Homo sapiens: one gene and its partner. Changing the gene in region 1 together with any one later gene gives a genetic interaction. Each region holds a gene or a part of one and is shown in the gene's direction. Other genes may lie near its edges.

The links. Genes that interact genetically often act in the same process or in processes that back each other up.
Region 2: changes in MVD (region 1) and KRAS are lethal when combined (synthetic lethality), as found in Homo sapiens cells (2 studies listed by BioGRID, with this or other methods).

What each region holds. Positions count from the first base shown.
Region 1 is NC_000016.10:88,653,092-88,656,591, reverse strand, and holds part of MVD (diphosphomevalonate decarboxylase), read left to right. Parts: intron 1-287; coding exon 288-487; intron 488-861; coding exon 862-936; intron 937-1,174; coding exon 1,175-1,393; intron 1,394-1,784; coding exon 1,785-1,900; intron 1,901-3,183; coding exon 3,184-3,292; intron 3,293-3,500. UniProt on the Homo sapiens protein: Catalyzes the ATP dependent decarboxylation of (R)-5-diphosphomevalonate to form isopentenyl diphosphate (IPP).
Region 2 is NC_000012.12:25,226,930-25,230,429, reverse strand, and holds part of KRAS (GTPase KRas), read left to right. Parts: intron 1-3,017; coding exon 3,018-3,196; intron 3,197-3,500. UniProt on the Homo sapiens protein: Ras proteins bind GDP/GTP and possess intrinsic GTPase activity. Plays an important role in the regulation of cell proliferation.

The sequences.
Region 1 (3,500 bases):
CCTTCCATGGGGCTTCCTGCTCTGCCGCAGGTACCTTTTGTTGCCCTTGTCGCGGGCCGCAAGCTCTGCAGGCCGTGAACAGAGAGTGTCCGAGAGTGGAACTAGCGGAGGTGGGGGACAGACGGCTGGGCCGGTGAATGCTGGCCTCAAAGGCTGATGGCCCAGAAGCCCTGTCATCTGGAAATCCCCATTTGCCGTGGGGTGTGGGACGTTCCTGGGGCGGTGAGCTGTCAGGGAGCACAGCGCAGGCAGCTCTGAGGACCCTCCCTGAATCCGCATGCCTGCAGCCTACACCCTGGCCCGTGTCTACGGCGTGGAGAGTGACCTCTCAGAAGTGGCTCGCCGGGGCTCAGGCAGCGCCTGCCGGAGCCTGTATGGGGGCTTTGTGGAGTGGCAGATGGGAGAGCAGGCCGACGGGAAGGACAGCATCGCTCGGCAAGTGGCCCCCGAGTCACACTGGCCTGAACTCCGCGTGCTCATCCTTGTGGTGAGTGGGGTGGGGCGGGTGGAGCAGCAGCCCGGTGGCCTCTGTCCCTAGTCAGGGCTGCTGCCGGGAGCAGGAGCGAAGGCGTCCATCCAGGCTTTGCTTGGCTCCTGGGGTCAGCGGGGGCTGAAGGAACAGAAGCGTGGTTGAGTGCTCAGGAACCGCTCCCATGCGGCGGGCGCCACCACCCGCTGGGATCTGGAAGTTGCCCCTGCGTCACCCCTGCTGTGGCCGGGAGGCCTCTGTGGTCAGGCAGGTGGCACTGACTCCCACCCCCGCTGCCTGCATTGGCTGAGGGAGGGCCGAGTGTTTGAGGCTGAGGTCCTTGGGGCTGGCCCCCTGCAGGGTGTGGCCCAGGCTGTCTCTCCCTCGTGCAGGTGAGCGCTGAGAAGAAGCTGACAGGCAGTACCGTGGGCATGCGGGCCAGTGTGGAGACCAGCCCCCTGCTTCGGGTAAGGCCAGGAGCGGGTGGTCCCGGGGCCCTGGGAGTCACGCTTGTGCCCGGCTCTGCCCTCAGCCTCTGTCTGGGCCCGAGTGTTCTCACACCTGCGGCAGCCCCGCCAAGACCACGTGCAGGAGCCAAATGCAGAGATGGGGCTCGAGCCGGGCCTCCAACCCCGGAGTCTCTCCTCGAACCCTCTGCTGTCGAGACCCCCAGCGGCTCCATGGGAAACACCCTGTGCCTTGCAGTTCCGGGCCGAGTCCGTGGTGCCCGCGCGCATGGCGGAGATGGCCCGCTGCATCCGGGAGCGAGACTTCCCCAGCTTCGCCCAGCTGACCATGAAGGACAGCAACCAGTTCCACGCCACCTGCCTCGACACCTTCCCGCCCATCTCTTACCTCAATGCCATCTCCTGGCGCATCATCCACCTGGTGCACCGCTTCAACGCCCACCACGGGGACACCAAGGTGACGCGGGCCGGGAGGGCAGAGGCTGCGCTCGCGCTGTAGCGCGTGTCTAGGCTTGTGCTGCCGTGGAGACGGCCCCGGGGCTCGCGTGCAGGGCAATCTGTGTCTGAAAGCTCCACCCTGCTGTGTGCGAAGCTCACTGACCATCTGGGTTCTTCTGTTTCATTTTGTTTCTTGACTTGCCCGGGTCACGGCCCCACCACCTTCTTCCTGGGTTCACAGGCAGACGTGTCAAGTACCAGGCACTTGGGGTCACAGCTCCACTCCAGTGTGGCCCTGAGGGCCTAGACTGAGCTCTTGGAGAGCCCAAGGCCGCCTGGCAGACCAGAGGGTTGGGGAGACAAGGGTCAGGCACCACGTGAATAGCCAGGGTGACTGCTGTGGGTTCCAGGTGGCGTACACCTTTGACGCGGGCCCCAATGCCGTGATCTTCACCCTGGACGACACTGTGGCTGAGTTTGTGGCTGCTGTGTGGCACGGCTTTCCCCCAGGCTCGAATGGAGACACGTGAGTGTGGACCCCGCCCCTCCTCCTTTTTGGGAGATGGTGCCAGGAACTCTGGTCGGAAGAGACGGAGGCACCTGAAGGCTGTGGCGCTGAGACAGGGAGTCCCAGGGCAGGCAGCAGTCCCCCGAGTGTGGGAGCCACGGGCAGGGTGTCCCCATAGAGCCATCCCACAGCCCACGTCCACAGGGAAGAAAGAGAGGCCGCTCACGCGTGTGTGAGCAACGCCCAGGGTCTCCCACCTCCTGAGTGACAGCGTCCCCTGCAGCTCGGGACCCCGCAGGCTCTTATTCTATAGAACAGTGGCTTAGGAAACACGCCTGCACTCCCAGATGTGTGCGTAAGTGTCCGACATTTTGAAGGAAAGGAGTCAAAGCCCCTGATTTCCTTCTTACTGAAGCGAGTTAGAGCCAGTCAAGGCGGCCGGGTGTTGACCCCGCCCCGGCAGTTGGGTGTCTTTTCTTGGGTGGGGTCCGGCAGCTGCATCTTGGCGCCACAGAGCCCCCATGTACGCCCTCCTCGGTGCACAGCTTGGCCCTGAACCGCCTCTTCCCCTGCGCTGCTCTGTGGGGGTGCCACAGAGCCCCCATGTACGCCCTCCTCGGTGCACAGCTTGGCCCAGCCTCCTTACGCCCCGGGGCTGTTGATTTCTTCCCTCCCGTGTTTTCATGGTGTCTTATTCTCAATGTGAGAGGCGCCTCCCATTTAAGGGTGTCTGGAAGCGTGTGGGGATGTGCGTCTGTCCCGGGTGGGAGCAATAACACCTTCTAATGGTCAGGGGCCTGCCCTGTGGGGTGGACTCAGACCCACACCCCAGGACTGCCCGCCTGGGAAGCACCAGGCTCGTGGCTGCTGCTCCGGGTGGGGCTTGCAGGCTTCCGCTGTTCTGCAGAACACGGTGACGAACGCACCAGCTTGAATTGGGCGCTTCCCTGAGCTGTTACCCCATGGGGCTTGGCAGCACCCTTGGCCAGATGTGGGTCCAGCCTGGGCATAGCTGTTTACCACATAACCTAAAATTTCCTGTCTCAGCCATTCGAGAGCATATAATCCTGCGGTGTTGAGGACATTCACAGGGTCATGTGAGCACCACCTCAAGCCACCTCCTTAACTTTTTCATCACCCCTAAAAGAAACCTGTCCCCACAGCAGCCACCTGCCGTCTCCCCCTCCCTGAGCCCTGACGGCCAGGAATGCACTTCCCATCTCTGGACTTGCCTGTTGTAGACTGTTGTAGACGCTTAGAGAAACGGATGCATTCACCGTGCCCCTGCCCTGCTTTTCCAGGTTTCTGAAGGGGCTGCAGGTGAGGCCGGCCCCTCTCTCAGCTGAGCTTCAGGCTGCGCTGGCCATGGAGCCGACCCCCGGTGGGGTCAAATACATCATTGTCACTCAGGTGAGGCCTGGGGCTCACCCAGTACCCCGGGGTTTCCTTTCCTGCCAGGGGGGCCCGCCCAGCCCCCAGGGCCCTTAAAGGCTAAGCGCGGCTCCCTGTCCCTACCGTGTCTCAGGCAGGAAGCCAGAACGCCTTTGTCCATTCATTTGCTCTCAAAGTGGACATTACAGGCCACTGGTGATGCTCAGAGCAGCAGGGCTGCGCTGAG
Region 2 (3,500 bases), on another chromosome or scaffold:
CTCAAACTCCCGACCTCAGGTGATCTGCCCACCTTGGCCTCCCAAAGTGCTGGGATTACAGACATGAGCCATCGCACCCGGCCAAGATAAATGTCTTTTAAATTATCTCCATTAAAGACATAACCTTTATAACATTTTGATGTATATATTACCAGTTTTTAAACACATAGTAGATTTGTATAAATACATAAACACATATTATTGTGATCATGCTGCACTTAGACATCTTTATATTCTCCTTATACTGTAAACATTTTGAAATACTTTACTAACAACATTTGTAATGACCATTCTTTCTCTCTTTCTCCCTCTGATAGAATGGTCTACAGAGTAATTCATAAACTAAACATACTTTAGAGGCTGGGCGCAGTGGCTCATGCCTGTAATCCCAGCACTTTGAGAGGCTGAGGCGTGCAGATCACGAGGTCAGGAGTTAGAGACCAGCCTGACTAACATGGTGAAACCCCATCTCTACTAAAAAAACAGTACAAAAATTAGCCGGGCGTGGTGGCGTGCACCTAGAATCCCAGCTACTCAAGAGGCTGAGGCAGGAGAATCACTCGAGCCCAGGAGGCAGAGGTTGTAGTGAGCCGAGATTGCACCACAGCACTCCAGCCTGGGCGACAGAGCGAGACTCCATCTCAAAAAAAAAAAAAAAAGATACATTAATACTATAGCCTACATGTGGAACATTAAGAAAATAATTGCTTTTATGTTTATGCTTTATACCTGTTGTTAGCCCTGCTTCTTATTTCATGATTTCATGGCTTCACATTGTAACATCCCTTTACCATATTTTTTGAGGACTGTTTTGGCAGAATGTGTGAAATCTTGAGCAGAAGTATTACCCAAAAGTCAGAAGAAAATCAGATTTTTATTTCAAGATTCTGTTAAAGTTACCCACTCCCTTCTTTTACTTAATCTTATAGTTGCAGTTCTCTCTCTTTTTAGAAAAGAAAAAAGAGGCCCCTCAGGATTTGCAGATGAAACAATATTGCTCTTTAGAGATATCCATCTGGCTGTTAGATTATTTTTCCACAGTTTTCAGAAGTGGATGAGGCCATTAGAATCTTGAGTATTGCCCATTTCCTTATGTGTGCCTTTGACTATAGATAAAATAGATGCATGACAATTATTTATAAGTTGATTGATTTTTCTTGTCATTTAAATCATCTTGAATAATAGAGTTGGTAGAGCTATCCCATTTTTGAAATTATTTTGTTTTGTCAATAACTTTTTGTTACCAGCATGTACACTTGCATTGTTGACTCTCCATATAATACCTTTAAAAAATTTTTTTTTGTGGTAAAATATGCATAACATAAAGTTTACCATGGTAGTTTTCTTTCATTTGTTTTGTTTTTGTTTTTTTGAGACGGAGCCTTGCTCTGTTGCCAGGCTGGAGTGCAGTGGAGCGATCTTGGCTCACTGCAACCTCCGCCTCCCGGGTTCAAGCAATTCCCCTGCCTCAGCCTCCTGAGTAGCTGGGACTACAGGCGCCCGCCACCACGCCCGGCTAATATTTTGTATTTTAATAGAGATGGGGTTTCACCATGTTGGCCAGGATGTTCTTGATCTCCTGACCTCATGATCCGCCCACCTCGGCCTCCCAAAGTGTTGGGATTGCAAGTGTGAGCCACCGCGCCTAGACCATGGTAGTTAATTTTAAGTGTTCAATTCAGTGACCTTAAGTGTGTTCATAATGTTGTGCAACCATCACCATGTTGTCTAACCATTAGCACTATCTGTTTTGAGAACTTTTTTTTATCATCCCAAATTAGAATTCTGTACCTGTCAAATAGTCCCCAGTAATCCTCCCTCCCCCAGCCCCTGGTAATCTGTAGTCTACTTTTCGTCTTTTTGAATTTGCCTATTTTAGGTTCCTCATATAAGTGGAATTATGTGGTATTTGTCCTTTTGTGTTGGCTTACTTCATTTAGCATAATGTTTTCAAGGTTCATCTGTGTTGTAGCATGTATATACAGGTTGAAGCATCCGTTATCCAAAATGGTTGTGACCAGAAGTGGTTTGGATTTCAGATTTTTTTTTTGGATTTTGGAATATTCATAGATACTTAACTGGTTCAGCATCCCTCGTCCAAAAATCCAAAATCAGATGGAGCTCAGTGGCTCATGCTTGTAATCCCAACACGTTGGGTGGCCAAGGCAGGAGGATCGCTTGAGCCCAGGAGTTCAACCAGCCTGAGCAACACAAGACCCTATCTCTCCAAAAAAAAAAAAAAAAAAAAAAAGATGAAAGAAAAAAAAATCCAAAATCAAATGCTCCAGTGAGCATTTCCTTTTAGCATCATGTCAGGCTCTAAAAGTTACAGGTTTTGGAGCATTTTGGATTTCAGATTTTTGGATTAACCTGCATTAATGCTCAACCTATATGAAATTTTATTCCTTTTTATGGCTGAATAATGTTCCACTGTATGTATATACTACATTTTGTTTATCCATTCATCTGTTAACAGACACTTAAGTTATTTCCACATTTTGGGTATTATAAATAGTGCTGCTGCGAACATTGGTGTACATGTATCTGTTTGAGTCCCTGTTTTTAGTTATTTTGGTTATATACCTAGGAATGGAATTGCTGATCATATGGTAATTCTGTGTTTAACTTTTTGAGGAACTACCACTGTTTTCCACAATGGCATCACCATTTTACATTCCCACCAGCAATGCACAAAGATTTCAGTGTCTGTATCCTTGCTAACACTTATTTTCCATTTTTTGAGTTTTTTTGTTTTGTTTTTTTAATAATAGCCAATCCTAATGGGTATGTGGTAGCATCTCATGGTTTTGATTTTATTTTCCTGACTATTGATGATGTTGAGCATCTTTTCAGGTGCTTAGTGGCCATTTGTCCGTCATCTTTGGAGCAGGAACAATGTCTTTTCAAGTCCTTTGCCCATTTTTAAATTGAATTTTTTGTTGTTGAGTTGTATATAACACCTTTTTTGAAGTAAAAGGTGCACTGTAATAATCCAGACTGTGTTTCTCCCTTCTCAGGATTCCTACAGGAAGCAAGTAGTAATTGATGGAGAAACCTGTCTCTTGGATATTCTCGACACAGCAGGTCAAGAGGAGTACAGTGCAATGAGGGACCAGTACATGAGGACTGGGGAGGGCTTTCTTTGTGTATTTGCCATAAATAATACTAAATCATTTGAAGATATTCACCATTATAGGTGGGTTTAAATTGAATATAATAAGCTGACATTAAGGAGTAATTATAGTTTTTATTTTTTGAGTCTTTGCTAATGCCATGCATATAATATTTAATAAAAATTTTTAAATAATGTTTATGAGGTAGGTAATATCCCTGTTTTATAAATGAAGTTCTTGGGGGATTAGAGCAGTGGAGTAACTTGCTCCAGACTGCATCGGTAGTGGTGGTGCTGGGATTGAAACCTAGGCCTGTTTGACTCCACAGCCTTCTGTACTCTTGACTATTCTACAAAAGCAAGACTTTAAACTTTTTAGATACATCAT